7 separate regions of the Homo sapiens genome follow, and all the other regions are reported to be linked to region 5. Evidence: microRNA targets listed by miRTarBase, many of them from high-throughput screens and not tested one by one. Region 5 holds a microRNA gene; each other region holds the end of a gene's coding sequence.

Region 1 (4,346 bases), not on the chromosome of region 5:
AAAATACCAAAATTAGTGAGGCGCGGTGGTGGGCACCTGTAATCTCAGCTACTCAGGAGGCTGAGGTGGGAGAATTGCTTGAACCTGGGTGGCAGAGGTTTCAGTGAGCCGAGATCACATCATTGCACTCCAGCCTGGGTGACAAGAATGAAACTCCATCTCAAAAAAAAAAAAAAAGAGAGAGACAGAATGTCTCTTAATATCTTTTTGTTGTAATAATTTCTTTCTTTTTTTTTTTTTGTTTTTGTTTTTGTGATGAAGTCTCGCTTTGTCACCAGGCTAGAGTGCAGTGGCATAATCTTGGCTCACCACAACTTCCGTCTCCCAGGTTCAAACGATTCTCCTGCCTCAGCCTCCTGAGTAGCTGGGATTATAGGCACATGCTACCATACCCAGCTAATTTTTGTATTTTTAGTAGGGACGGGGTTTCACCATGTCAGCCAGGATGGTCTCGATCTTCTGACCTCGTGATCTGCCTGCCTCAGCCTCCCAAAGTGCTGGGATTACAGGCATAAGCCACCGCACCCGGCTTGTTATGATAATTTCTAAAATGTTTTTTCATTTTAGGGTGCAGACATGAATGGATTACCAACAAAAGGACCAACAGAAATCTGTGATAAAAAGAAAGACTAAAGAAATTTTCCTAAAGGACCCCATCATTTAAAAAATGGACCTGATAATATGAAGCATCTTCCTTGTAATTGTCTCTGACCTTTTTATCTGAGACCGGAATTCAGGATAGGAGTCTAGATATTTACCTGATACTAATCAGGAAATATATGATATCCGTATTTAAAATGTAGTTAGTTATATTTAATGACCTCATTCCTAAGTTCCTTTTTCGTTAATGTAGCTTTCATTTCTGTTATTGCTGTTTGAATAATATGATTAAATAGAAGGTTTGTGCCAGTAGACATTATGTTACTAAATCAGCACTTTAAAATCTTTGGTTCTCTAATTCATATGAATTTGCTGTTTGCTCTAATTTCTTTGGGCTCTTCTAATTTGAGTGGAGTACAATTTTGTTGTGAAACAGTCCAGTGAAACTGTGCAGGGAAATGAAGGTAGAATTTTGGGAGGTAATAATGATGTGAAACATAAAGATTTAATAATTACTGTCCAACACAGTGGAGCAGCTTGTCCACAAATATAGTAATTACTATTTATTGCTCTAAGGAAGATTAAAAAAAGATAGGGAAAAGGGGGAAACTTCTTTGAAAAATGAAACATCTGTTACATTAATGTCTAATTATAAAATTTTAATCCTTACTGCATTTCTTCTGTTCCTACAAATGTATTAAACATTCAGTTTAACTGGTAGTTCATTTTCTTTTAAAGTCTATTGAAATATTCAAAAGGGAAATTTTTCACCACGTCAGAAGGCAGAATTTGGATGTTGTGATGGCATCTGTGTAGTGGTGGGACAACAATTACTATTGTTGCGTAACAAGACACTCCAAAATTTAGTGGTTTTCAGCAGCAGTGACTCGACTGGGCAGTTCTTTGCTGTTCTGGGCTCACTCATATGGCTGGCTGGGCCTGGGTCTGGACCTGGGCCGCTATGTGATTTTTATCTTGGGCTTTGAAAATTCAGTGTAGGGACCTATAAATATTCAAAGATGATGAGATGCATCCTTATATATTTTTTGTATTCACTCTGAAGCTGGGAAAGATTAAAAGGAACTCCTGCCCTTGGGTCCCTAATGAAGTCTGGGTCCTAACTCAGGCTCTATTAAGTTCTGTGGCTGGTCAAGTCACTGATTTACCTTGGGCTTTATTTGATATAAATCATGTAAATCAGCAGGTCTCAGCTTTTCTGTCCAAAGCCACCTGAGGGATAAGATAAATTCTCATTAGCAAATAAACTTTTTTAAGGTATAAATACTATTATAAAAATAACAGATATTTACAGTACAACAATGCAAGAGGATCCTAAATGAAAAGCGAATGTTTTTTCTCAACTCTCATTCCCTTATTCCAGCTCCACAGAGGTAACCAATTGTTTTTTTGTTGTTGTTGTTGTATGGTTTGTTTTTGTTAGACAGTAGTCTTTTCCTGAACAGTGCTGCTCCTTGTGGAGCAAGGCTAATTCATAGGCAGTGCATCCAGAGTCCGCCCCAGTTGATTTTGTGTGTAACCTTCTAGCAACTTTTTGAAAATTAATTTGTTCTTAAATATGCACATCATTTTTATTTATTTATGTTTTTGAGACAGGGTCTCACTCTGTCACTCAAGCTGGAGTGCAGCAGCATGATCACGGCTCTCTATGGCCTCGACCTGCAGTCCTGAAGTGATCCTCTCACCTTAGCCTCTCAAGTAGCTGGGACTACAGGTGCACACCACCATGCCCAGCTAATGTTTTTTGTAATTTTTTTTATAGAGACAGGGTTTCGTCATGTTGCCTGGGCTGATCTCGATCTCCTGGGCTCAAGCGATCCTCCACTTTGGCTTCCCAAAGTGCTGGGATTACAGGCATGAGCTACTACTGCACCTGGCCCACACATCATCTTTTAAAAATTAAGTAATATTGCAACGTTTCTAATTGTCCCTACTTCTTTGCTCCTCAAAGGTTTTACCTACTGAGCTGTGGGCTTTTTAAATTTATCTCCATATTTATAAATAAATTATAAAAATATAAAAATATAAACATTTTATTTTTTGAGACAGGGTCTCACTGTCACCCAGGTGCTGGAGTGCAGCGGCATCATCATAGCTCACTACAGCCTCCAACTCCTGGGCTCAAGTGATCCTCCCACCTCAGCCTCCTGAATTGCTAGGACTACAGGTGTGTGCCACCACGCCTGGCTAATTTTTTGTAGAGACGGGGTCTTGCTCTGTTGCCCAAGCGAGTCTCAAACTCCTGGCCTCAAAGTGATCCTCTTGCCTCAGCCTCCCAAAGTGTCGGGATTACAGGCATGAGCCACTGCCTGGCTATACTGTTATATTTTGAGCCATCAACTTCAGACATTGTTTCCCATAATGGTTGAGATGCCGCTATCTTACACTGCCTCTGCTCCTCCCACACATCCTCCCAAGTGCTTTTGTAAATTTTGCTTACATCATCAGTGTTCATAGCATGAGTGTGCCAGGTGTCTTTCATTTGCCCCTCCCAAGTCTCTGCTCCCCTCATCCTGCTTTCAGCCCAAGGAAGCTGTATAGACATCAACAGACTTCCCATGTCTCTGGGTTCTGCTGGGTTTGGCCAATAGCGATCCATAGCAGGAGATGGCTGGAGGGAGGAGAATGAAGGCAGAGTGTTTATTCCCTTGGCCCTCTCTCTGCAAGGTCACCTCAGGCCAACTGTTCCTCAGCCAGAAGTCACTGTGCCTCAAGGAACACTCCAGGCAGCCAACTCCACCTGACTTCTTTTATTTTTCCTAACCTGTCCTTCACCCTGCCCTTTTGGGCCCAGGGGTGGTGGTATTTCTGTTACTGGCTCTGGGCTACTGCTTCCTCTCAAGAGTGCTATCTGGCTTGCTGGGACACTGCCTGGGAGAATACTATTGCTCACTGCACAGGTTAATGCACTGTGATTGCGTCCCTTTTAATATACAGGTGGTGTCTTCCTGGAGTGACCAGTTTACCTTCTCCCCATACACCTCTCCTGCCTAGTTGTTGCCTAGACCTGGTGCACACTGCAGTCCTCGGGACTTTCTGTTGCCACCCTCCTGTATTGGACGTCTTGTTTCTGGATTTCCTATCCTCTTCCTTCTTGGTTTATCCCTCATTTTTTCTGTAGCACAGCAGTTTTCTAATTCAATACTTTTAGGAGGTTGAGTATGGATAATTTTGGAAAGTGTCCCCGGGATGATTCCAATTTATTTAAGCCTGTTTTCCAGAGAGCTGCGGGTCTCCTAAGGCCTTTCTCATTTCTAACAAGTCTCCCTCTCTAGAACACTGGTTCCCAGTCGTTGTTTTCATACTAGCAACATTTTAAAAGCAGGATAGGGGTGGCTAGTATGCAATTGCCAACTTTTGATTTTTCCAAGCAGGAGTATATCAAAAAGCTACAATTTATTACCAGTATTTCGTAAAAGACAGTTTGACACCAGAAGAGTGAAAAAGAACATGGGAATAGTGGACAAAAATAGCCATCAGTTTGAATAAGCGTATGAAAAGTGTTAATTTTATGAAAAATTCACTATTTTGTTCATATTTTTCTTATTTTGGAGGCTAATTGTTAAAAGCTTTTATCAGTTATCCATGGGCTGGAGTTGGTAGCCACTGTTTGATACCACACAAATGTTTCTTTGCCCTAAAATATCAACATCTGTCTGTGTAAAGGTCAGGGCTGCCTTTTTAGTAAGAGCTACCCTTTGTTAAACACATTGTACCTGCACTGTTCA
Region 2 (4,346 bases), not on the chromosome of region 5:
TATTTTTACATCTAAAACCTCAGAAATCACTTTGACCCTGGAAATCTTCACTATGACCTCTAATTGCAAGTTCTTTTCTTTCAAGTCAGTTATCAAAATCAGTAGATTTTAAAAATGATGAGTTTGATTCTTAGTTCTTTGATACTTATTTTCTCTACTGGTAGTGGGTACAAAGTAAACTGGAATTAGACACATACATAATTGTATCAATTGGGACGCTTTGGGTTTTAAGCACCTATAAGTAACTAAGTCTCAGGACAAAGATTGGTCTCATTTCAAGGACTTGGATAAGATGACAGAGTGTGTATGCTGTTGCCAGTGCCTAGTGGCCAAGGCCAGATCTGGCAGTTCATGAAGAGGTGAAATCGGAAGAAGGGTCACTCCTCAAAGAATAGGGAGTATATTAGGCAAATAATACCTGTTCACTTATAGTATTGACATCAGGTAACTTTAAAAGATGAATTGCCTGCCGTTTTTAAAATAAGGTTCATTTTTATTCATATTAATTCATTTTTCAGAAGAGAAAATGAAGCATAGAGAAAGTAATTTGCCCAAGATCCCATGACTCATAAGTGGCAGACTTGTGATCTGAACCCCAATCTCTTCACTCCAGCCAACATTATGTACCGCAGCAAGAAACAATAGAATGGCTAACAGAAATACGATCGATCTGTATGTGTAAAAAGAAAAGCTCTTCCAGAACACTGCTGGTATAAAAGGCAAGTTGTTACATAGTATTAGAGTGTGACCTCCTTTCATGTTAAGAAACACACATACACACACACACACACACACACACACACACACACAAAAGCCCCCAACAAACCTGCACACATGTACTTCATATAAATACATCTATATAGGGCTTCATATCAAAATATTAACAGCTATCTTTGGAGAGGAGAGTGGGATGCTGGGGATGAAAAAGAATGTATTTTATACTCTATCATATATATGTAATCTGAATTATAATTTTAATATTATATAAATAAATAACTTGATTGGAGGAAAGAAGGAAAAGCAAAATGCCTAGATGCTAAAAATTATACATGAAAGTCAAAAGTTGGTTCTAGACCATTCCTGTATCTTCCTTGTGCTGTTATTTTAGGATATGATGAGTGAAAACTACTTGTCACAAATTTCTTTCCCCATTGACAGGATAGCACATGTTCTCCTAAAATGGTGTCGATAAGGCAACTTTTCAGAACATACATGTATTAATGGTTTATATACATAGCCCCCTAAATCCTATGTGACCTTTAAAACATTATTTTATTATAATTATAAACTACAAGTATACTAGAATTTAGAATATAATAAGCACTTGTTTTCAAACAGCAGTTTATAAAATACTACGAACACAATTGATGCCTCTTATAAATCTCAATTCAGTCTTTCTTGGTTCCCACAGGTAACCACCAGCAAATTTTTTTCCTACATATACAGCCATAATTTATAGTATCATTTTTTATATTTATACTTTATGTAACTAATTTCATAAAACACGACTTGTTCCACCACTCACTCTTGTCACTTGTTTTTGAGATGTATTCATGCTGACATATATAGCTCTAGCTTGTTCATTTGGACTGCTGTGTGGAAGTCTATCATATGAATATATGCATTACTAAAGCTGAGCACGGGTTAGGACCCCTTTCTGCTGTTTTACACAAGGCTGCCGTGAACATTTTTGCAGATGTCTCCTTATGCATGTGCATAAGTACTTATTTAAGGTAACATGGTAAGGAATCTTTAATTTTACTAGATATTGCAGAACTGGTAGTTATGCCAGTGTATTTTCCCACCAACAGTAGAGTTCCCACTGTTTGATGTTCCTGACAACACTTGCTATTTTGAAACTTCCGTTTTTGCTAATTTGATGTGGTACCTTTCCATGTTTTTAACTTGTATTTCCCTGATTATCAGTGAAGAGTATTTTTTTTCCATGTTTGTTGGCCTTTTGAATTTCCTCTTGTAAGAATAATGTGCTGATATTTCTATTAGGTAGACTTATCATGAGTTGTAGGAACTTTCATATCTTCATAAATTAAGCCTTTCTTATATATTAATATATTGAAAACATCTTACATGTCGCTTGTCTTTAAGTCTTCAATCCAACTCAAAATATATGAAGGTTTAAATTAGGGATCCAAATTTATATTTTTATAAGTAGATAATTATGACAACACAATTTTTTAAAAAAAATTCACTCCTTTCTCTACTTGCTTATAACAACATAACTTAAGTATCTATATATGAGGGTCTCTCCAACTGATTCAAGGAAAACAGCAGCAACATTTAGCATTTAAGATGGCCATGCCATGTATCAGGAACTATGCTAAACATTTTAAATGCTTAGACCATGCATTTTGGAGTCAGAATGCCAGGGCTTAAATGTACACTAGGGATCCCTGATAAATGGTAAATCTTACAAATTTCTTGTTTGTTCACTGGCTAATAGAAATGTATGCATCAGGTAAGGGAAATAAATATGCTGGTTGACACAAACTATATATTTTAAAAAGCACCCCAAATATACAACTTGCTTTTATTAAATTGAAAAAAAAATCCCCAAGAGGCAGATATCCCAGTAGTTTTAGTGAAAACAAATTTAATATCATCTTGTTTGAACAAAGCTTTCAGAATAAGTGAGCAATTAAATTCTTAAAGTAGGGACAGAACACCAACAGGCTCTAGACTCCGGAAGAGCTGTAAGCCGACAAATGGGCATTGTTTTGCTTAACAGTTTTAGCTTCAATGTAAATATATATTATTACTTAGAATATTAGCATCTGAACTATATAATGACTATTTTATCATTTTACTTGAATTAAAACCAGAATTTCTGGAACTTCCAAATAGTCTTTAAAGTTTTTCAATATAAACATAAACTAACCCCTATTCCTCTCTACATATCAAATGTGAAATAACTGTCACAATATATCAGCATTTTCACAGAAAGATGTTTAAGGCTTCTGGCACATAAAATGTGTAATTTCTGTGTGACAATGTCATAATTATATACAGAAAATATTTAAAATTCTTGTAGAATTTAAGTTCTAAAGATTAAAAAAACAAGAGTTCCATGTTAATAAAATATTAAAATACTATGAGCTTCCCATAAAATTGACAGTGATTTGTAATTACATAAAGAATACACAAGGCAAGTCTTTCACACTAAGTGATTCATCATTGAAAATAATTATTGAACTGAATATACTTATTTGGTATCACTAGTTTTCTAAATCATTCTTTCAGCCCAAAACAGGCTTTCATATAACTTATAAATATTTCCAATTGCTACACTGAGGCAGCAAATGTCATATCTATGTTTGTCCTAGTTGTATGTCATACAAATATAAAGTCTATGAATCTTATACTTTTGTCTAAGTCACCATTGTAGAGAATGTGCTGGTAAGTGAAATCAATACAAAGGAATTATTTTTCATTTGTAAAAAATGAAAATCATTTACACCTTGTTTTAAAGTTCTAAAGCAGCATATTCAACTCTTAAGGCAAAAAAAAGATCAAAAAATTACTATAAATTATAAATTCTGGTAACTTTTCTTCTGGCATTAAAAGCCACAACACAAATTCTAATATTTTAATAGATAATATATTAGTGTACATCTGAATATACATTTGCCAAAATGTTCCATTAGTATGAAGTTGGTCTGAAGTGGAAGTGAAGTGCAGTGGTGTGGCAGGGTAACATTTAATGGCCGTCCTGGGCATCAGGGGACATGGAATGGCTGAGTCTTGACCTTCCATTCACAGATATTGTATTTGATGGAATGGTAACCTAAGAGAAAGAAACACACTTTGCACCCATCAATTTAAAATGGGATAGCTGTCTAATTTTCAATTTTCAACAGTTACCACATTTTAACTTCTGCTTAATTGTAAATGATAAGTATCTATTATTCAATAAATTATAATCAAGAATAAATGTTCATTCTACCATAAAATTTAAAAAGAGAGAGTCGTTATTTTCACAACAAATAAGATAAATAATCCATTAACACATCTTAATCTGTACAGAATTACCAAATCAACACAAAGGACAAGAGCACAAACAGACTGCAAACCAAGCTGTTAAAGAGCATTTTTAGCTAGATTAATTCTGTAATTCTGGCTCCCCAAAACTGCCTCTGAGAATGTAGAAAGATAAAGTGAATTCCACAAAGCAATGAATTTTACAAGTTTTGTACTGATGGTATAAATTAACGTGAAATCCCCCTCCCAATGGCCCCCTATTTATTCAAAACAAAAAAACTAGCCCTTGGTTTTAAAAATGCTTTCATATAAAGGATTTAAAAATTAAAATCTGTGACTGTTAAGCCAAA
Region 3 (4,346 bases), not on the chromosome of region 5:
CCGTGGAGGTATATAACAAGCACTTGGAGGGCAGGCCCAGCTTGAGGAGGGGGTGTGAAAATCCTGGCTCTCCTTTGGGCAAGTCTGTATCCTCTATGACTCAGTTTCCTCATCATTAAAATGGGAATAACGGTGCTGAGATGTTATAACAATCAAAATGAGTTACCACAGGTGAAGAATTTAGCAAAGTGACTGACTTAGGTAGGAGGCTAATAAACATTAGCTGTCAGCTCAGCTTTGTCCAAGGTATGTTGCCCCCAAAAAAGCACAACCCAGGAGAAGTCCAGGGAGCAGGGGACTTTAGGGCTTGCTCAAGTCTCCACAGCCAAACTGGAGAGTACCCTTGGATGTCCTGTGCTTCCTCAATATCGTGGTGAGGTGCAGGCACTAAGGAGTGGGGTGACTTTAGGCCTACATGGGAGCAGAGGACAAACTGAGCAGCACGAGAGGGAGGGAAGAACTGACAGTGCCCTGGGATCCAGTCCTGTATGCATCTGCTAAATATCATTACACAAGTGTAGTAGCCTTTGCACTGGTTGCCTTCAAAGAATTAGGAATGTTGTTCTGTCAGAGGGCGGGGAATGAAAACACTTGTCAAGTGTGCAGTGTTTGATATAGCAGCAACTAGGGAGGTTCTAACATCACACACTTGTACTTCCTATTTGACCAACAGGCCATCAAGTACCACAGGCATTTTGGTACAACTTCTATTATTAGGGCCTGGTCCCTGGATTTGGCCTCTATTTTGCAGACCCTAGAGACCCTCTGTGGTGACTGGCTTGAGATAACCCAAATGCACAAGGCCTGAGGTAGACAACAGAAAGTCAGTTTTTCAACAAAAAACAATGTTTGGTAGCTAGAATATTCACACTGGCATTTTCACCCTGCAGGCAGACCTATACAAGTAGCCAAACCTTCATTACAAAGATACTTGAAGAGTACTTGAATACAAATCAAAATGACATAATGGCACTAAGCTAAAAAACAGGCTGAAAAAGAAATTCCCAAAGAGAGTTAACAAAACTGGATACCTGGCCATCTCATGGCTGAGCAAGCTTTGTCTTCTTTTCTATGATCCTGACCAATATACTCCCAACTCTGCTCTGATCCTCTATTAACATGTGAAGTCAGAGAGCGGTCATGCTCCCTCAATTTCCAAGTGTGGATGGGGGAGCAGGCTGGGAAACTCACTGTGCTGGCAATCTACCTTTCAGTCATTTCAAGATTGCATTAACATAAGTGAGAGTCTCCACCCAATGTTTTCTCCAGCTGAAGGCCAATTTCTTTGGAGAGTCACCCTGGACCCAGAGAACCTGGCTGGGTACTGAAGGCACAGCAGGGCCAAGCCTGATGGTGCAGTGACTCTGCAGAGTCACTCTCACAGAATTGCAATACTTTCCACAGGTTAGAACACGGCTCCCACAGAAGTGGTTAAAAACTGCCAGCTCCTCTCCCTGAACACAAGCCACTAGTGCTTTCTCAAGTATATTCTAGGCCCAAAGAATTCAACATCAGCATTCTTGGTTAAATCACAATCCAGCCATGTTCCCAGATCAATCATCGCAATCCCCAGTTCCGTCATTCCCACCAATAGCTGGTTAGGTCTTCATTTCCAATTCCATTCTCAGAGGATAAACTGCATGGCAGGTCTGGGAGTGCCCCACTTCACTGAGCTTGCAGCAACAGGTGCTCTTCCTGGCCCGACGGTGGAAAGCCATGCCTCCCTCATAATAGTTACCGTAAGTCCTGAATAGAATACCGAACATTTAGACGACAAGGTGTGTCAAGGAAGAGTCCTACTAGCTCCCTTCCACCTTGGTGATCGGAGAGGATAGGCAGGGGAAGCCTTTTCTAGTCCTCTTCCTAACAGTTCTTAAGTCAATATCCAGAAACTTAATTGTAACAAGGAGACACAGGGGCTTGGGGCCGGGGGGAGGGGGGTGTAGGGTGGTGGAGGAAGAACTGATAAGGCAAGAGACAGGCAAAGCTCAAGGAGGAAGGTGGTGCCTGAACACAGCGCCTGCAGGTGTGGCTCCAGTAAGCCTCCCTGACACCAACAACAGTGGGCTCAGTCCCCAGAGCATCTTCTCAGATCTAATCTTGCTCTCTGCTCCTTTCTGTTCACTGAAGGCCTTAGTAACTCTACCTTTCTGTTCTCCCTGCTTTGTATTACCACTGGCTACTCCATCGTTTGGAGGATTCTTCTCTCCCCCAAGTTACCCATGGCGTGGAAGAGGTTTCAGGCTAAAAGTACATGTATTATTATTACCTGTTAATTAAGACCAGTAAATGTGAACAGAGGAAATAATGATGATGTTTTTCCTGTACCTACAAAGCTATCAATATACTTCCTGGCACTGCCCTAGAATGAAAACGAACCTGCATATGTGACAGGAAGACTTCCTTTCCCCACCTCACTGACACCATTTACAAACCTTTCCTAGCTAATACAGCCACCAGAGTCAGATGCAGTATTACTTATTTCCAAAATGACTTAAGGCAAAAAGACTTATTTTTGTAAACTGGTAACACTTTGTGGAGATTCACAGGCTGCAGAAGGAACTGAAATGAGGAAATCCATATTTTCTTGCTAAAAAGTTTGCAACTCTAACACCATGAACAGTTAATAGATGCACACTAATGAAGACACTATGTTTTTAAAACAAGTATTGTGAATTACAGAAAGTAATGTTTTTGTAAATCATGGCTTAATAATTTAAAAAAGAATACTCAATTGCTCTGCTTCATTCTTGAAGTTTTTCACTACATCTACATCTAAAAACTGGTAAGTTTTCCAAATGGTGGTGTAAAGCAAGGACAACAGTTCACATAAGTACCAGTTTTGGAAAAGCAGTCAGTTACACAAGTGACAACTTTAACAATGGCTCCTACGGTGCAAAGTGCTGAGGTTGTAACAGAGGAACAAGTATTGCTTATTTCTGAAGTGGGTACATGGCATCAGATGGTGAGAATATTCCTACTGCAGTTCCATGTATAAATTTGGAAAAAATGTGCAACATGTCTACATGGGAGGGATTTTCACTAAATTTTGAGAAAAATAACTATGGCACCATTTGTTCAATGAAGAAAGGTAAATGTGTCTAATCACAATCTTGATAACTGGAAACATTAATTACTATGGTAGCAATTTCTGAAAAGAAAGCCCCAAAATTCCAAAATTCTATGCTGCCACTTAAAATGTTCTAACCAGCTCCTGAATTGCAGCATGTTAATGATTATTTCAAAATGCAATAAATTGCTAAAATTTTAGCTAAGTAACTTTTATGAGCATCTGAAATTGAGTTTTAAACTTATAACTTCAGCAATACATATTGAACACTTACATTCAACTGTACAGACCATTAAATGTTGAAAAATGCTATATAACAAAACCATAGAAATGAGCACACTATGAAAATGCTCTCTGACCAATTCTATAACTGCAATAAATTGAATACTGTAAACACACACAGGACAAATCTGAACACTGTGGAAAGAGTTTAGTTGCTTTATCAAGTCATATTATATTTTTATGAGCTAAGATCATAGAGGCAAATGGAATTCTTAGAACATTACCTAAAAATAGATTTTTAAAGACAGAGGTCCCAACTCATTCTTATATACACATGCAAAAGTTCATCTGTCACAGACAGCAAATGTTGAATTTCTACATTGGAGTTTCTGGCAGCATCCTGCACATTTAGAATTAAAATCAACAGACAGAGAAATATCAAATATATCGAGATGAGTTGTTCAAATTTGTGCAGGACAGAACACGGCCCCTCTGGGACTACTGCCTATGTGCTCACTGCTGTTTCTCAAAGGCAAACACCAAGTAAATACCTAAAGAAGAAATAAATAAGAGTTCAGTTTCTCATATGATTACAATAAATAAAACAATCTGTCTTGTTCATAATTTGGTGAAAATTCTTAGGCTCTCAAGCAGCTTCTGAAGAGGAAAATCCCCATTAATTCTAAGAGTTCCTCTATTATTTGAATCATTTTTAGGCAGACATGGGATGGTACTTGCTTACTTTAAAACAATTATCTACTTACTATAATACTCAGTGATATTGCAGCCCATGGGAAAACCAGTTCAACAGCTCTAAAAATCAGTTTAAGGTAAGAAAAATAAAAGTATAACTAAATTAGAAGTATAACAAATTAAAATTATAATAAAATTAAATTTTAAATAAGTATAACAAAGAAAACTAGAATTAAAAATATTAAAGATATTTTAGAAAACTAGAATTAAAGGAACATACATAACATGACATGTTAACAATTCACCCAATTATCCAATTATTGTGTTGTAGGGCCTTGTGAAGAAAGTAAGCCAAAAGCTC
Region 4 (4,346 bases), not on the chromosome of region 5:
AAAGTATGTCTGTCTATCTGTATATCACTGTATTTGGTTTTATCACTTTGGAAACTGTTTGACTGAATCTATTGAAACTAAATATATGCCTACTCCTACAGTTCACTCAAGAGTAGTAAAATACCCTTCACAAAAAGACATGTACAACAATGTGCACAGCAGCTTTATTTATGATATCCAAAAACTGGAAACAAATGTCCCTCAACATATGGATGGATAAGCAAATACTAGAATATTACACAGCAATAAAAAGAAATAAATGTCTGACACATGCAACAAGACCAGTGAATATTAAAAATATGTTGCACAGAAAAAACTAGACATAAAGGCATACATGCTATATGCTCCATTTATACGAGGCTCAAGGCAGGCAAAGGTTATTTATGGTGATAGAAATCCAAATATGGTTTCCCTTTTGAGGCAATATTGATTGGAAAAAGATATGAAGGAACCTTCTGAAGTGCCAGAAATGCTCCATATCTTGATCCAGGTGGTGGTTACATACTGCATTACATGTCAGAATACATCAAGCTGTATATTGTTTACCATCTGTAAGTTATACTGCATACAAAAATATGGAACAAGGCTAAATGCCCATCAACCAATGAGTGGATAAAGAAAATGTGATATATATACACCATGGAATACTACTCAGCCATAAAAAGGAACAAAATAATGGCATTCACAGCAACCTGGATGGAGCTGGAGACCATTATACTAAGTGAAGTAACTCAAGTATGGAAAACCAAATATCCTGTGTTTTCATTTATAAGTGGGAGCTAAGCTATGAAGATGCAAAGGCATAAGAATGACATAATGGACCAGGCGCAGTGGCGCACGCCTGTAATCCCAACACTTTGGGAGGCCAAAATAGGCAGATCACTTGAGGTTAGGAGTTCAAGACTAGCCTGGCCAACATGGTGAAACCCCATCTCTACAAAAAATACAAAAATTAGCTGGGCATGGTGGTGCATGCCTGTAGTCCCAGCTACACAGGAGGTTCAGGCAGGAGAATCACTTGAACTCAGGAGGCTGCAGTAAGCCAAGTTCATGCCACTGCACTCCAGCCTGGGCAACAGAGTGAGACTCTGTCTCAAAAAGAAGAAAAAAAGAATTATATAATGGGGACTCGGGGGGGGAAGCGTAGGAGGGGGATGAGGGATAAAAGATTACACACTGGGTACCGTGTACAATGCTCGGGTGACAAGTGCACCAAAATCTCAGAAATTACCATTAAAGAACTTATCCATGTAAGCAAAAACCACCTGTTCCCCCAAAACTGTTTAAATAAAAAATAAAAAACTGACTGGGCATGGTGGCTCACACCTGTAATCCCAACACTTTGGGAAGTTGAAGCAGGCAAATCACCCTGAGCTCAGGAGCTCAAGACCAGTTGGGCCCACATGGTAAAACCCTGTCTCTACCAAAAATACCAAAAAAAAAAAAAAAAAATTAGCTGAGTGTGTTGGCTCACACCCATAGTCCCAGCTACTTGGGAGGCTGAGGCTGAGATGGGAGGATCACTTGAGCCTGGGAGGTGGAGACTGCGGTAAGCCAAGATTGCACCACTGCACTCCAGCTTGGGCAACAGAGTGAGACCCTGTCTCAAAAAAAAAAAAAGTGTTTCATAAAGTTATAGTGCACACATACACACACACATACACACACACACACACACACACCCTATCTTGGCATGAGGAAAATCTCCAAAGGTAGAACAGTAATACAAAACTCAGCCCTTCTCCCTCCCTTCCTCTGGACTTTGTGCCAGCTAGGCATCTAAAACTGCCTTCCTCCATGGCAGTTGCCTATCATCTTTAGAAAGTGCCCGCTTTGTGGGAGAAAATTGAGCCAGGAATGAGGACCAAGGGGGAAGGGCTCTCTCTGGCATCCCCTCATGGGTTAGCGTGCGGGTGGAGACTGCAGGCCTTACCTTGCAAGCCAGCTGCCCTGAATGCAGAGACTTCTCTGTTTCCAGTAAAGTCTAGTTTGAATGTTTCAGACAGGTCCTCACCATGACTGGGAACTAGGGAGGTGTCCTTGCCCTTGCCTAAGGTTCAGCACCATGGCCATGCAGCTATAATAACCCCAAATGGCAAAGAACTCTCAGATCCTGAGCTGGCTGTCAATGATCAAACCGCTTTTCCTCAGCTACAGTCCCTTTCTTGGAAATTCTAACTTCATTATAACTTCATTATAAGGAAAGTGGCATTTCCCAATTCTGTCCAGCAGAACCATTTTCTAATTCTATTAAAAGGCATTAAGCCCATCCTGGTGGGGAGCACTGAGTGAGAAGTGGAGGGCAGAGTCTCTGCCCATCAGCGCTTACAGTCTGGGTGTGGAGAAAGGCAACAAGGCAACTTTTAAGAACACATCATGTTCCCCAGCAAGCCTGAGGCCTACTGGCAAGGCACTCACTGTTCAGAGCTGAACAAAATGGCTTTGGGCCATAGATGTCATGAGGGATATCAGAGGAAACTTGTCAGCAGCTCCCACCACCCTAGAATCCGCCTCTGAGAGCATCCCACGGGTCTTTGGAGGGAAGAGGGCCTCACTTGGCCCAGGACCCAGACCCTTCTGCCTTTTTCCCAGTTGGCCTCCACCATGAAAAAGGCCGACAACTGCCCTGCATTCTGCCTGATTGACGATGGGGCACATACTCCTTGGGACAAAATGGTGTTGGAGGACTCATACCCCAACATCAGCAAGGTAAAGAGGAGCCCAGAGCTCTGGTCTACTGCCTCTCAAGCCCTTCCTGGGGGAGAAAGAGGGGAGCTCAGTGAGACACTTAACAACAGGAAACAGCTCTCATGTGTGAGTTCTTCCCAGAGTAGGAGGTCGCTTCTCTTTCCTCTTCCTCAATATCTCTCTCTCTCTCTCCACTCCCCTATTCTCTCCCAAGCACATATGTGAGTAACTGACTTTGCTAATCCCAACCAGGCAGACTAATACCCACTGGCTTCAGACCTGGTGCTATGTGGGTGTCTGCTGCTGCACCTTGTTGGTCTGAGCAGCAAACTCAGCAGAGTTTCGAGACAGAGATAAAGCCTGTGTGAGTGGCCTGTGCATGTTAAAGTGTATCTGGAACGTGCTCAGTACCTGAGCTTCTCTGTGGTCTGTGCGGCAGTCCCATCATGAAAACACCCAGGTGGCAGCCCAGTCACCCGAATCACAGGCCAAGGACATCAGAGAATCAACAGGCTTCTCGGAGTCAGGCTTGTAAACCTGGAGCCCATTGGTCCTTCTGCACCGTGAGATGCGAAAGTGAGCAGCGTGTGAAAAGCCTTAGGGTCTGCACATTGGCTTGACATGTTTTCCACCAACATGTGCAAAATCTGAATTAGTACGTGTAGCTGGTGAGTGTGAGAGAAGTAGGAGGGGAGGGAGAACTAGAGGGGATTTGGAGTTGACAGAGGGAGAAGGAGAGAGAAGTGGATGGAGTAACGTGACCTGAGTGGAGGGACACCGAGTCCCTGAGGTGTGGGTGCAAAGGGCCCTGTGAGGGGCCGGGAGGGAGTGAGTGCTGACAGTTGTTGAGGCGTGGAGTGTATGGGGATGTACTAATAGACACAGTGAAGCTTCCCTTTGCTAGCCAAGCACCGCAGAGGCCATCCCTCCAAGCAGAGGGTTGCAGCAAGCTCTATTCTCTCCCGCTCAGGAGCGGGAAGCCGCCGGGTGTTTCGGGGTCCCGCTAGGAAAGGGGACAGCGGAACCTGGTTCAGGCAGCCGGCGGCGGCGCGGGACGAGCTGAGTGGTTCTAGCGAAGCGCTGCCTGCCTCAGAGCAGCCGCGACGCTTCCCTAGTAGAGCTGGGCCGCCGGAAGCCCGAGGCGCGGGCGGCTTCTGCCGCTGTTGCAGGATTCCCGGCCCTGGGGAGAAAAGCGTCTGTATCAGAGCCGTGTAGATTGCTCGCGCCGGCTGTCGGGACCTCCGAGGCGCGGGGCCAGGCTGCGAGGAGGCGCGGGAGCTGAGACTGCGCTCAATCGGCGGTTCACTGGAACCGTATCCGCAGGCGGCGCTACGGTGGGACCACGGTCAGGAGGCGCCGGTGGCTGCTGAATTGCAGCTGCGGGACCCTGGAAAACTGGGGCAAAGAGGCAGTGAGTTCTGCCCAGCCCACCACCCTGGCCTTTGGAGGTGAGCGCCGCCCCAAGGTCACTAAGCCGGGGGCCCTGCGTCGCCCCAATGCCGCGGGGAGAAAAGGAACCGGCCCTGGCGTCCACAAAACCTAGGCACAGTATGCCCTGTTCAGAGAGGATCCCGACCTCGCCAGCAACCAGCCTACCTCCGAAGGTTGAGAAGTAAATCAGGGCGCCCCGCACCGTTTCCTGGAGCGCCCGGTTCACC
Region 5 (4,346 bases):
CAAAAAGAAGACGTAGGATAGACATTTATACTACAGAATTGCATTCAATGTCTCCAATAAGCTATTTCAGGACTCAGATCACCCTACAATATTTTAAATAAGGATGCAACTCAAACAAGGCGAAGAGGGAATTTCAATTTCTGATTCTACCTTCAGGGAAGATAAAAACATCTTATGTGAAGTGATTTATGAGTCAATGTGAAATAGGTAAAGAAAATCTCAAGAGAAAGAAATACAGAGGGTTAAATATTGACTTTTACAGACAGAATTCTTTACACCACTTTCCTCACTGTAATGTTACTCTTTTTCCCCTTGTACAATACTTAATACCTATTTTAGTAGATAGGTACTTTGAAACTATGTAAATATCTCATTCCTCATCATATATACAGATATACATTCATTCACCAAAAAGTATTGTTTCTCTGAAAAGACTTGGCTTCTATTATACTTAATATAGTTCCTGATTTTATAAATCACTGTGTATGTGACCATTCTCCCATCTCTGCCACCACCCCTTCCCCATGTGGATGCCCTTCTCTCCCTACTCCACGTGGGGCTAACCCCCCAAGAGGACAGCCCCTTTAGAGGAAATTTATAGACTAGAGGATTCTGAGATCTTCAGATCTTTCAAGGTGGAATGCTGCTTTGAAGATAGGATCTTTTTACTTAAAAATGTATTTAAGAAAAATATCATTAACCAAAAGCATCACAACCAAATAAACTATATTTACCTCTAAAAACTAGACTTATTCTGAAACTACAGAACAGTACAAGAAATTATATATAATCACTACATTGCAACACTTTTCAAACATTCTTATAGCAACATTTATGACGTAACAACATACCAGTTCAGATTTGAAGTAGCCTATTGTGTTTTCATCCAATTGAAAATATCTTCTCTTCCAGTTTTTCATCTACCAGAGATGAACACAGACATAAGACTTGTGTTTCTAAGAATGTCAAATGTTAGTCACCACTTAATTACCCTGATATGAACCCACAATCAGACATGCCAAGCAGTGAAAAATCTCATTACTTCCCTTAGAGATGCGATAAATTAAACCTCATCCCTCTCTAGCTACCCAGGCTTTGAATTCCTAATTCAATTTCTGGTGCCTGGCTTTCATCTTTTATTGTATGATTTTATGTGTTTTTTTTTTTTTTTTTTGAGACAGAGTCTTGCTCTGTCACCCAGGCTGGAGTGCAATGGCGCGATCTCGGCTCACTGCCTCTGCCTTCTGGGTTCAAGCAATTCTCCTGCATCAGCCTCTCGAGTAGCTGGGATTACAGGCTCCCATCACTATGCCCAGCTAATTTTTGTATTTTTAGTAGAGACAGGGTTTCACCATGTTAGTCAGGCTGGTCTCAAACTCCTGACCTCAGGTGATCCGCCCACCTTGGCCTCCCAAAATGCTGGGATTACAGGCGTGAGCCACCATGCCTGGCCTATTTCATATTTTTAATGTTGAAACTTTTTTTTTTTTTAAAAGCACTTCCCCTTCCTCCTACTCCTCGCCCCCGCCAACCCCATGTAAAGAGCAAACACAGGAAATGTTATTAAACCACATCAAGTTTCTCCATCTGTAAAAACATATGAATTCTTCCACAAGTACTTTATACATAGTAGTAAAGCACTAAATATTTAATAAAGTAAACCTATTTTGTACAAATATTTTTTGTCAATAAAATAACAGTTTTTGCAGAAGCACTTAAATATCTCTGACTGGTATTTTGGACTTAAGAGTAAAACAAAAAGGAACCATCAGGCTATGATCCTCAGTTGTGTGTAAAATTAGGGCTTTCAATCTACACACAACTGAGCATCACAGCCTGATGAGAATTCTGACTCTACCTGCAGACATTGTACAGTAAGAAACCCCTGCCCTCACCATCATTTTCCTCAGCCTAAAGCAGGTCAAACAGGTGAAAGGACATTCCCCTGGCTGCCCTAAAAAAATTAAGAGTTGCCAAAAAGTGATGAGAAGTCAAACAGAACCACCAAAATAATTTTAAGTATTTCTTTACTCACAGACTTAAAAAACATTTTCAAACTTTAAAGTTAATTTTCTCATGAAATTCTAAAGATTTAGTTCACATAGAAAGAATGGCTTAGATACTAAGGTATGTTGCAACCTTAGAAATATTGGTAAATTTACTTGCTCTTGCAAAAAATTCATCATGGAACTGATTATATGGGAATACCTGGGCTAACCCATAACAGCTTTTACTAAGTACCAGGTGCTGTGCAAAGGGAAACACACCTTTCTTATTTACATCTCTTAAAAAACAAAAACAAAACAAAACAAAACCCTAGATGGTAGGTTTTATATGATATTCCTTAAGACAGAAACTGAGGGCCTGAGAGGTTAAGTAAGTAGCCCAAGGTCAGAGAGCTTACCACGGAGGTCAGGCCAATGCCTAAACAAGGAAGAGACCTCCTAGGCACCACTCCTTCTCCTGCCGCTGGCCTGCCATCTCCCCACAACAGCTCTCTTTCCCTGACCCACTCCTGAGTATGAGTAAAGATGAATAGAAACACTTTCTAAAACATTAAACTGTTAGGAAAGCTCATTTAAACTGAAAGTCAGTGGTAATGGGCATTAACTTTCCTGGCCCCCTGCAAACCAAGCAAATAACAGCATTGAATTATAAACAGAGAATATCCCCTATTTTATCTCCTGACTCTCCTCAGCATGCCGGTCTCTCACTTTGGGTCTTTCATAAAATAAAGCAAACAATTTCCATGTTAATTTGAGTTTGCTAGAACGTAATCCTTTTTCATTATTTCATGTATTTTGTTAAGCTACTCACCACTGCTCCTTGTTTTACACAATATCCAGCTTTGATAACCGCACTATCTTGAGGTGGTTTAGGAGTAAAGTAAGGAAGATGGCTTTGTGACCGTTTCAGATTATTTCTGTCAATACTTTCACCACATTCATTTACTTCTTCTTTCTAAAATGAAGCAAAATAAATAAATTATTTTCTTGCTTGTTTAGCATACTTTTATTTCATATTATCCCAGTAGAAAATCTTAAAATCCACCTTAGATTAGTCAGAAACAGATTTTTGAAGAGTTTTCTAATTAATCTGAGATACTTACTCTTAATTTTCCTGTCACTGATTAAAGCACAAATTTCCATTCCTCTTGTTTTGCACAAGTCCTGCCACCAGTGCTCTTTTTTGGGGAAGGAGTTAACTTTTTATTTTGAAATAATTATAAGGATTCACCAGAAGCTGCCCAAAAAAAGTACAACAGGTCCTATGTACCCTTTCACTAGTTTCCCCTCAAAGGGAAACGGCGTAACATTATCAAAAAACAAGAAATGGACATTGGCACAACCCACAAACTTTATTCGGATTCCACCAGTTTTACATACATTCATCTATGTGTGTCTATACAGTTCTATGCAGTTTTATCACATGTGTAGATCTGTGTAACTACTACCACATTTAAGACCCAGAATTGGTCATCACCCCAAGGCTCCTTTGTGAACTTTAGAGTTCCTACCCCTAAATCCCCTGGCAGCCACTAATCTGTTCTCCAAGACTATAATTTTGACATTTTGAAAATGTAATGTAAATGGAAGCATACAGAAGGTTATCTTTTGAGATTATCTTTTTTCACTCAGCATAATTCTCTAGAGATTCGTCCAGACTGTTCCTTGTATCTAGAGTTCATTCCTTTTTATTGCTATATTTCCATGGTATGGATGGATGACCAGTTGTTTAACTGTTCACCCATTAAAGGACATTTGAGTTGTTTCCCACTTTTAGCTATTAGGAAAAAAGCTGCTATCAACATTCATGCACAAGTTTTTATGTGAATGTAATTTTCCCTTTCTCTACGATAAACACCTAGTCCTGCAAATGCTGGGTTGTACAGTAATCACAAGCTTACTTTTATTATTAAAAAAAAAACAAAACATAAACACTAAACTGTTTTTCAGAGTGGCTAATTTTCATTCCCACCAGCAACACCTGAGAGATTATGTTTCTCCTCAACCTTGGCAGCATTTGTGTCGTCACTTTTATTTCAGCCATTCTGAGAGGTGTGCAGTGATCTTTTATTGTGCTCTTAATTTGTATTTTTTCCCTGCTAGCTAATGATGGTGAACATCTTTTCATGTGCTTACTTACCATCTGTTTATCTTTTATCTTTTGATGAAATATCTGTTCATGAATTTTCTAATTGGATTTCTTGGGCTTTTTACTGTTGGGTTCTGAGTTCTTTCTATGTTCTAGATAAAAGTCCTTTGTTGGACATGTGGTTTGCAAATATTTTCTCCCAGTTTGTAGCTTTTCTTTTCATCCTCTTAAGAAGGTCTTTCATAGAGCAA
Region 6 (4,346 bases), not on the chromosome of region 5:
ACACAGACCAAAGAATATTCTGAATGCTCAATCTACTTTTTCTATTTTAAGTCACATAAATATATTTAATAGAAAACTCTGATAACAAGCACTTTACTTTCTGACAAGATGTTAAGATTTTCTGTCCTGGTATATACCACTTGTTTCCAATTATGTCTAAAAACTCCTAGACTCAGACATCCATATCAGGTATGATACATCAATCTAGCAAGGACTAGGAGAGATAAAAAGTAGACAATGAGGAGGAAAATACTTGGGTGGAATGAAAACTAGCGGCTTTACTTTATACAGTTGTTCAAGATATTGTTACTTGAACTCCAGACTAAAATTATGGATAGAGTATTAGTCCAATTTGAAAATATTCCTGTTTAATACCACTGGGTTCTCAAACCATTAACAACCACTGGAACAACAGGAAACAGTTCCTTAATAATTTTTGCCTTTTAAAGTCCCAAATAAAGAAGTTCTCTCTGCCACGCATATCTTCTCAAGTAACTGAGATCAACGTTTGGTAGGTTTCATTCTGCAGTATTTTTCTTTATATAGTACATTTTGCAATATTTTTCTTTAGTATCTTTAGACATATTTAAAACTTGGAGATTCATACAGTCCCTGAGGATCCTAATTAACTACATGGAATTCAAAAATTCTTAAAAAATTTATTATCTTTATTTAAAAAAAAATTACACACACACACACATGCATACACACAGGATTGGAAATTTTTTTTTTTTTTTAGAATACTAACACCATCTTTTATTTTTCCAAATTCCTACAGTCTTATGCCACTTGACTCCTAGTTAACCAGGATATAAATGTATAATCTTTTCATATCATAGGTACCACTATCATTTCATCAATTTCCTGAAGTAAATTGAGTGAAATCATAAGCACACACTTAAGAGTCAGTATTTATTCTGATTAATATTTTACAAAATTTTGACATTTAATTTATGTAAGGAGGGCTAATTTATTAAACACTTTACAGGTTTTTCTTTCCACAGAATAACACGGTAAGTAGCAAAATAATACTTGGCACAGTTATAAATAAAGAAAATATAAAATAAAAACATCCATAGCTTAAGTACAATGATGCTGTTTTACGCCCATTAATATCAAATAAATTCCTGGAAACAACAAAAATATGAATGAAAAAAAACTCCAAGGAAGTAATTCATGTTCAGTGCTGAGAATTAAGTTCCTATTTGCTAAAAGTATCCAATTAAGTTGATAAGAACTATTCCCAAAGGTTCACCATCATACACAACTTTAGAACTGGGTTTATAGTTGGTTCCACACACAGGACCTACAAAATAATTAAACAGATGGTATACTGCTGCATAGCTGGCTCCTGACCATCTGACCATTTCTGAGTTATAGATTTCACAGGTACTACAAGATGGTTACTACAAAAGCATTCACATTGCTAGTATTTTCCATGTAATTACACATCTAGAGGTTTGTCTTTTTAACTGAATGACATCTCTTTTGCACTGAAAATATTGTACCACAAACAAAGAAGATGGTAACAACATTCTTAGCCAAACTCTGAAAAAACCACCATAGTCTTTAACTGTTGATAAAAATGTATTCGATAAAAATGCAACTGAGTCTTCATGTGAAGTGGCTCAAAATACAAAAAATTAAAACAAATTCTAGCATTTTATAAATAACTTTGAATTTAAAAATTATCTAAAATTTCCCCCAATTAGTAGTCAAAACTAGCTGACATTTGTAAAGTTAACCAATTTTTACATTCTATGACAAAATGGCACAATGCTATTGCCACCCCACACCCATCTCTTCCCTTTTCAAAAATAAAGTACATATGCCAATTTTCTAATATTAAAACACATACACTAAGGGTAATCTTTTTTTGATGTGTGACTTATGGTCAAATAAGCTACTATATAAAAATGGTACTTGGAAATACTGAACATCAACTATATACATTTCACTGCTCCTCTTACTAAGGCAAGGGGCGGGTATACCACTAGATTGCTTTAATACCTGTAATCTGCATTTTACAGGGAAGACTAGTTTTACCAAGCATCAGACATGCAGTGAACTTGCAGGGTATAATGCCTATTAACAGCAATTTTGAACATCACTAGAAGCTCATTAGTTATCTCCCTTTTCTTTTTGGTTGGACAAAATGAAATGAGCAGCTTTAAAAACACTAACACAGACACAAAGAGAAAACTATTTGATAAATTATTTATATACAGATACACATTCTTTACATTGGTCTAGGATCTGTCATCAGTCTGACCACCATTCCCCCACATCTCCCACCCCATTCCCTCTCACAGATTTCCCACAGGTTGCTCGAACCACAGTTTGCTACAGCACTTAAGATGAATAAACCAAATCTCACCCTGTAAACAATATTTATGGAAGCAGTGACTAGTAGTCCACCATGAAGGTATGAAAATGCTGTGACAAAAATTGATCAGTGCATCACATTTAACAAAAAGAAAATTTTTTCTAAAACTGTTTCAGAACTTACTCAATATTGGATAAACTGAAATACTCTTGGGGATGAAATTCTACTTTCTGATAGGTCATTTTATTGAAACCAGAATATACTGTCAGCTTTTCTTTTATTCACATGTGCTATGTACTTAGATCATGCTCCATCTTTAGTTAAATGCCATTATTTTGTCTACAATTATTTTGCAGCTGAGAATTTAAAAGGAAGTATATCCATGTATCACTATTACTGAGAATTTTGCATTATTTGTTCTGCCTTTTCTTGAAAATACCACCTTAACCCTTAAAAATGGAACTGTTTTTGAACATCAAATTAAATTCTAATTTATGCTTCACTGGATAGTATCTGCTAGTATACATTCTATGTGGTGTGTCATGCAATTAGCAGGGCTTTTAAATTTGAACAAAAAAACATGACTTACTATACTCATGCAAGTGCTTCATTATCAGACCGTAAAACCTCAGAGTAAGGTTACTACAAATTATTTCACTGAACTAGAAATATATCAGCATTGCAACAGCTGATAGAAACAAAACATTGTTAGCACATTTTATTGTGAACATTATTTTCTCCTGCCTTTGAAGACAACATCACAGTAGATCCCAATCACATGATTTTCATCACAGTATTTATGTGTACATTCTGAAATGTACATAATAACTAGTCAATCAACTTAAAACAATGCTCCTGGAATTAGATGCAATACTCGTACTAGACTGCATCATAACATTTAGCCAAATAACATAAATTTAGTTTTAGTTAAAACTGAACATTTCTGATCAGTACACCATGTCTGTCAATAGAATAAGTTTACCCTTTTTTTGTGAAAAATACTGTGAGAACAAAACCCAAAAGTTGAGTATGTTGTGAATTTCCACATTAAGAACCATTAAAATTATTTTTTATCATCTTTACTCTTCCCAGAAATGGCAGTGTGTTCTGTCCATGTTTACTTTTGTTAATAAAAGTGTTGAAAAAAAGACTGTAAAATTCACCATTAGCCCTACACATAGCATGCTCTTGTTCAAAGGATGTGGATTCGAGTGTGAGAAAGACACGGACAGACACAATTTTCAGGCACCACTCAGCAATATGCTTCATAGGATAAGATGTCGCTACACCAGCTGGTACCCAGATCCTGATATTTGGTCATATTCTATTGTATACTGCCTGGTCCAGTCCACGATAACAGGACGAAAGAGGCCACAGCATCGAAATTCAAAGAAGTCTATAATATTTCTTACACATCCATGGCTAAAAACAGCACCCCAAAAAGAAAACACGTCAGTCAGTACAAATGATTTAATACATGAATTCAATATAATTTTCGTGTTAAATATATTTTTTTCTAAACTTAAAAACTCAGGTTACTTGCAAGAAGGAACCAATTCATAACTCTATAAAATATATATGCCTTCATGTTTCTCCACTGCTCTGCCAACAATGATTTTTTCTTTTGCCAATTTAAAGACTTACACAATTATATTTTAAATTTATTCAAATGTGCATATACTTTCTGTGTTATATGCATTTTTATTTTTATTTTTAGAGATGAGGTCTTAACTATGTTGCCCGGCCTGGCCTCGAACTCTGGGCTCAAGCAATCCTCTCACCTCAGCCTCCCAAGTAGCTAGGACTACAGACATGCACCAACATGCCTGGCTCCATATGTAATTTTTGATAAAAACCTTTAATTAGTGGCTCTTTGGCAGGAGACAAACTATCTCTAAAACAGAAAAAAAGTAAAAGACAAAATAATTATAAATAGCATGAATCTGGCAGTGAACCTAAGGATAACAACTTAAAAAAGAAATGTCAAGGATAAGTTCATGAAATTTTAGTACTCCAGTAA
Region 7 (4,312 bases), not on the chromosome of region 5:
TTAATATCCTTGGTGATGGGAAACCTCAGGAGGGTTTTGAGCAGAGAAATGAGATTTTCAAAGGATCACTCTGGATGCTGCTGGGAAGAGACCAAAGGATGCAATAATGGAAGCTGAGGGAGGGTCTGGAGGTAGCTGCACGAATGCAGGTGAGAGGCAATGCAGGCTTGAACAAGGGTGGTCGCAGTGGAGGGGCAGGAGGTGGTTGGCTCCTGGAGAGAATTTGAAGGTAGTTCCCACAGTCTTTCCTGATGCACCAGATGGGAGAGGAGTCGGAATGGCTCCAGGGCTTCCCACTTGAGCTGCAGGAAGATGGAGTGGCCATTACCTGAGACGGGAATGGCTGCAGATGGGCTGGATGTGGGGCAGTTAACCAGAAGGTCAGTGTTGGATTGTTCACTATGGGAAATCAGGTAGGCAGTGGATTGAAGAGCAAGAAAGAGTTCTAGGCTGGAGATAAATGGAAACATCATCAACATATTTAAAGCCATGAGACAAGGTGGGCCCCTCGGAGGACTGGGTATAACCAGGGAAGAAAGGGGGCCCCACGCAGAGCCCAGGATCCTCCAGCACGACACTGTCAGAGCAAAGAGAAGGAGCAAGCAGGGGAGATGGAAAAGGCGAGCAGCAAGGAGGAGGGAGACCAAGAGCACCCGGTGTCCTGGAAGCTGGTGATGAGGACTCGCCACGTCAAGCAGGAGGAGAACAAGAACTGCCCACAGGACCCAGCCACAGGGGGTGGTGGGTGCCCTGAGAAGGGCCATGTGGGTGGAGTGGGGGTGCAGAAGTCTGATGAGACGGCATTTGGGAAAGAAGGGAAGGATTAGGACGAGGCAACAGACAAGTAAAACTCTCGTGCGGGGTTCCACCAGAAACGCAACAGGATGGGGCAGCGGGACGGGGAAGGGGGTCAGGGAAGGGGTCGGGGAAGGTGGTGGCCATTTCTGGTCAGGTGGAAAATGGCAGCGTGTCTGTGTGCTAATGGGGTGATCCAGCAGAGGGGACAGCAGGTGGTAGGACGAGAGTGAGGCCACATCAGGAGCTGTGGAAGAAGAGCTGGAGTCAGTCCAATACCAGGGGTTCTGGCACCACGGGGGCCAAGTGGCTTCTGCCACAGTCACAGTAGAAGGCAGAGTACGGAGGTTTGGGGGCTGGGTGTAGGCGTGTATGGTTGGGGGAGTCTGAGGAGGCACCCCAGAGAGGCAGTGGGAGCAGCCAATGCAATGTGCTCCCACAGCTCCGTCAGCAGGTGGCTGGGGAGGCCACAGGGCAGCTTAGGGTCACCCCGTTTCCACCACTTTTCACCTATGTAACCTTGAATGAGTTGTTCACCCTCTCTCTCTCTGCCTCAGTTTCCTAATCTGTAAACCTGAGCAACTGCAGGTCTCTGCCCCCGGAAAACTCATTGAGAGCATGTAGATGAGGCAATACCTACACAGCCCCTAGCTCAGCACCTGCCCATCGGAATCCTTCCTCTCTGGGTGCCTGCGGTGAAGCCCCGGCCCGGCCAACCTGGACCTCTCCATTCCCACTCTGGAGCTAGCGCTGGGTGTTCCTGGGGAAGCACTGCTTGGCCTCCTCACTCATGCTTTCACATTGTTTCTCACTCTCACATCCAGACAAGACAGCACCAGGAAACCCACGCTGAGCTGGAACCCTCCTTCTGCAACAAACAAGCTGGGAAGGTCCTGGGCAAGTTGTTACGTCTCTCTGAGCCTCGTTTGCATCCCACATAAAAGAGGAGGCAGGATTGAATGAGCTCTAAGGTTCCTTCAAGTTCTAGATTCATGAAATAATGTTTTTTCCTCAAGAAAAAGAATTATTCATTGTATAAAGAAATACACACCTGTAATCCCAACTACCCACTGGCTGAGGCAGGAGGCTCGTTTGAGGCTCGTTGAGTTCAAGGCTGCAGCGAGATCAGGCCACTACGCTCCAGCTTGGGTGACAGGGTGAGACCCTGTCAGAAAAAAAGAAAAGAAAAGAAGAGGGAAGGGGATGGGAGGGGAGGGGAGGGGAGGGGAAACAATGGGTCTCAAAGAAAATCCTTTAAGAACACACAGAAGCAGTAGGGAGAGCCCACGCCTGTCCTCATTTGTCCCTGGAGCTGTGGGCTGTGAGCTGATGCTGTGAAGGCCAGACCCAAAGCCAGTCACACAGAGGCAGCAGCTGGACCGGCCTCGCCGACTGAGACCAGTGGCCACACAGACACACACCTGACAAGGTAGACCACGAAACACAGACGCAGGCCTACTGCCAAACAGACGACTTCTCCCTCAAAGCACAGTCATCTTCAGAATGAGAGGCGGCCCATCCTATGGAACCGAGAGGCGTGGCTCTTAAATTTGGGCTTCAAAAGACAAGCTCAGTCCCTGATTTTTTCCACCTGAGAAGGAGGCTTTTCTGAACATGACCCAGTGCGTTCAGAGCAGCCAGGATGAGGAAACACATCTACAAAGAAGCAGCTTAATCCAAACACAAGAAATGGTATGCAAAATAGGATATCAGACGTACTTTTGCAATTGAACATGGTCAAAACCATTTTGCAGCAAGTAACTTTTCCTGAGTTCAAGTAAGAGTTTAGTCCAACATTTATATGTGACACAGCCATGTGAGGCCTCTTCTCTGAGTACAAAGTAAAGTCTGGTAAAGTAAAAAATTAAAAGAAAAATCATTTCTATAATTAGGAGCAAGATTACTTTGCATGTCACGTGACCATGGCTGAATGGGCAAAACTAACGAAGTACCTTGGTTTTATACAACCCTGCAACACAGGCTCGCACAAACCTCTGGGTAGGAGGCAGCGGAGCAAACTGAAGGCTAAACAGCAAACCACAAAGTTCAGTTGTTCCTCGGCCAAATGAGACATTCAATGAAGATGAGCTTGGCTCAGGCTTGGGAAGTGGACGCAGGACCACCCTGCTTCACCAGGGCCCACTTTAGGGCTCTGAGCCCGAGGGGTCCTTGAGAGCATCCTGACTTGACTCCAACTGAATTCCCAGAAAGCTCCCAGAATCCCACATGAACCCCATCTGAGTTCAACTGTCCTTCAGTTTGAACTGAGAGCCCTAAAGTGCTCCTGGGGCAGTGGCTGGTCCCCATTGATCAAAAACAAGGGACAGTTGGGGTGATGAAATGAGAGAGCAGCAGATGGCTCAGAAGGGATGTCCTGCTCGCTAGGCAGGTCAGCAGTGTGGGCAGTCTGTACAGCAGGTCAGAATGCAGTGGTTTCTGAGCCTAATTTATACATTTATAAGAACTCTGTCCAGAGCTGGGTGTTCCTCAGCATGTGAGCTGCATCCACTGCGGGGACATTTCCTCGGATGAAACTTGGGTTGTGTTGAGTACCGAGCCGATAACATGGACTCAATCCCAGCTACATCCAGCCCTGTGAATGAAGGAGCTGGGGTGAATTTGGTCATCCCAGGCTTAGCTCCAAAAAGCACAAGGACTGGGAGCTGAGGTGGAGGGGACTCGACAGGGATGGAAGGATGCCGGCTCCGAGACCTCATCATCAGTGTCCCCTCCTAAGGGAGGCAGCACGTGGGAGTGGTTCAAGTCAGGGGCTGCCCACCAGATTCTGACAGTGCTCGATTTTCATTCCCGCTCCTATGCCTACTGGCTGTGAGCCTTGGGACAAGTTTCTGTACCTCTCGCAGCTGCTGTGTCCTTGCCTGTAAAATTAGGATGGTAACACCCATCATGTCATAGGATACTGACCCCTGAAATGCAAAAATCCAGGTGTATGTCAAACACTTAGTATGAAGAGTGTGCGTGCCCAAGAGACGGGCCTATTATTGCCTGGGGCACCAAGTGGGAACTAATCAGTGACTTCATGAACACCGACATTCTGGCGTGGATTTCAGCACTGAAGAACAGCATCCTCTGTCCCGCCCCCTCTTCCAAAATCTAGCAAAAACTATCCCCACGGGTTATCTGAAACTTGTCCGGATGTGCCTCTGGGCTCCCCTCAGACAGGCGGACAATCTTCCCCCCGGGAATTCTCTAGAGCCTGCCAGTAGTCCAAGAGAGTCCGAGGCTTGATGAAGTGGCAGGCCACGATCCTCCTGAAGAGGCATACGGAGAAGCGTAAGCCCCCTGGAAAAAAGGTCGGCTGGGAGTGGAGCTCCTCCAATCTGATGTTCAGCCTTTCGAGGCAGAGCCCCACAAACACGTCTTCCAGTTTAATGTATGGGACGCTCTTGGAGACATTGTACACCTGACTCGCCACGTCGCCAGAAAACACGTAGCCGGTGCCGGAGCAGAATGGTGGGTACCTGTCCCACGGATATTCAGATTTACTGACAAACCA

Evidence for each region. The annotated mature microRNA hsa-miR-3941 reads UUACACACAACUGAGGAUCAUA and lies in region 5 at 1,775-1,796, opposite strand. An mRNA with a match to its seed (bases 2 to 7 or 8) in the 3' UTR can be bound and repressed. Matches are read on the target gene's strand: a 7mer-m8 pairs with bases 2 to 8, a 7mer-A1 pairs with bases 2 to 7 and ends in A, and an 8mer does both.
Region 1: miRTarBase lists C18orf32 as a target of hsa-miR-3941. Seed matches in the 3' UTR shown: 8mer at 2,130-2,137 and 7mer-A1 at 4,276-4,282.
Region 2: miRTarBase lists COBLL1 as a target of hsa-miR-3941. Seed matches in the 3' UTR shown: 7mer-A1 at 1,666-1,672 and 7mer-m8 at 775-781.
Region 3: the mRNA of RNMT is a reported target of hsa-miR-3941. Seed matches in the 3' UTR shown: 7mer-A1 at 2,859-2,865 and 7mer-A1 at 508-514.
Region 4: miRTarBase lists FOXL2NB as a target of hsa-miR-3941. Seed matches in the 3' UTR shown: 7mer-m8 at 1,660-1,666, 7mer-m8 at 1,648-1,654, 8mer at 1,170-1,177 and 7mer-A1 at 236-242.
Region 6: the mRNA of ZDHHC17 is a reported target of hsa-miR-3941. Seed matches in the 3' UTR shown: 7mer-A1 at 1,445-1,451.
Region 7: miRTarBase lists B3GALT5 as a target of hsa-miR-3941. Seed matches in the 3' UTR shown: 7mer-m8 at 1,840-1,846.

Annotation. Positions count from the first base shown.
Region 1 is chr18:49,478,632-49,482,977 of GRCh38, reverse strand. It overlaps C18orf32 (chromosome 18 open reading frame 32), which reads left to right. Exons shown (of 3, transcript NM_001035005.4): 3 at 568-4,346. The coding sequence ends at 633. It overlaps RPL17-C18orf32 (RPL17-C18orf32 readthrough), which reads left to right. Exons shown (of 7, transcript NM_001199356.2): 7 at 568-1,800. Among named protein-coding and RNA genes, the nearest start is that of C18orf32, 6.4 kb to the left of the region's middle.
Region 2 is chr2:164,682,231-164,686,576 of GRCh38, forward strand. It overlaps COBLL1 (cordon-bleu WH2 repeat protein like 1), which reads right to left. Exons shown (of 14, transcript NM_001365672.2): 14 at 1-3,802. The coding sequence ends at 3,716. Among named protein-coding and RNA genes, the nearest start is that of SNORA70F, 3.4 kb to the right of the region's middle.
Region 3 is chr18:13,759,439-13,763,784 of GRCh38, reverse strand. RNMT (RNA guanine-7 methyltransferase) reads right to left here. Exons shown (of 12, transcript NM_003799.3): 12 at 1-3,843. The coding sequence ends at 3,806. Among named protein-coding and RNA genes, the nearest start is that of RNMT, 35 kb to the right of the region's middle.
Region 4 is chr3:138,949,787-138,954,132 of GRCh38, reverse strand. It overlaps FOXL2NB (FOXL2 neighbor), which reads right to left. Exons shown (of 3, transcript NM_001040061.3): 3 at 143-3,868. The coding sequence ends at 3,561. Among named protein-coding and RNA genes, the nearest start is that of FOXL2NB, 4.7 kb to the right of the region's middle.
Region 5 is chr10:122,414,474-122,418,819 of GRCh38, reverse strand. It overlaps MIR3941 (microRNA 3941), which reads right to left and starts at 1,855; the gene lies at 1,753-1,855. It overlaps PLEKHA1 (pleckstrin homology domain containing A1), which reads right to left. Exons shown (of 12, transcript NM_001001974.4): 7 at 2,818-2,961; 8 at 852-920.
Region 6 is chr12:76,850,249-76,854,594 of GRCh38, reverse strand. It overlaps ZDHHC17 (zDHHC palmitoyltransferase 17), which reads right to left. Exons shown (of 17, transcript NM_015336.4): 17 at 899-3,748. The coding sequence ends at 3,610. Among named protein-coding and RNA genes, the nearest start is that of CSRP2, 27 kb to the left of the region's middle.
Region 7 is chr21:39,661,151-39,665,462 of GRCh38, reverse strand. B3GALT5 (beta-1,3-galactosyltransferase 5) reads right to left here. Exons shown (of 4, transcript NM_001356336.2): 4 at 1-4,312. The coding sequence ends at 3,971. Among named protein-coding and RNA genes, the nearest start is that of B3GALT5, 50 kb to the right of the region's middle.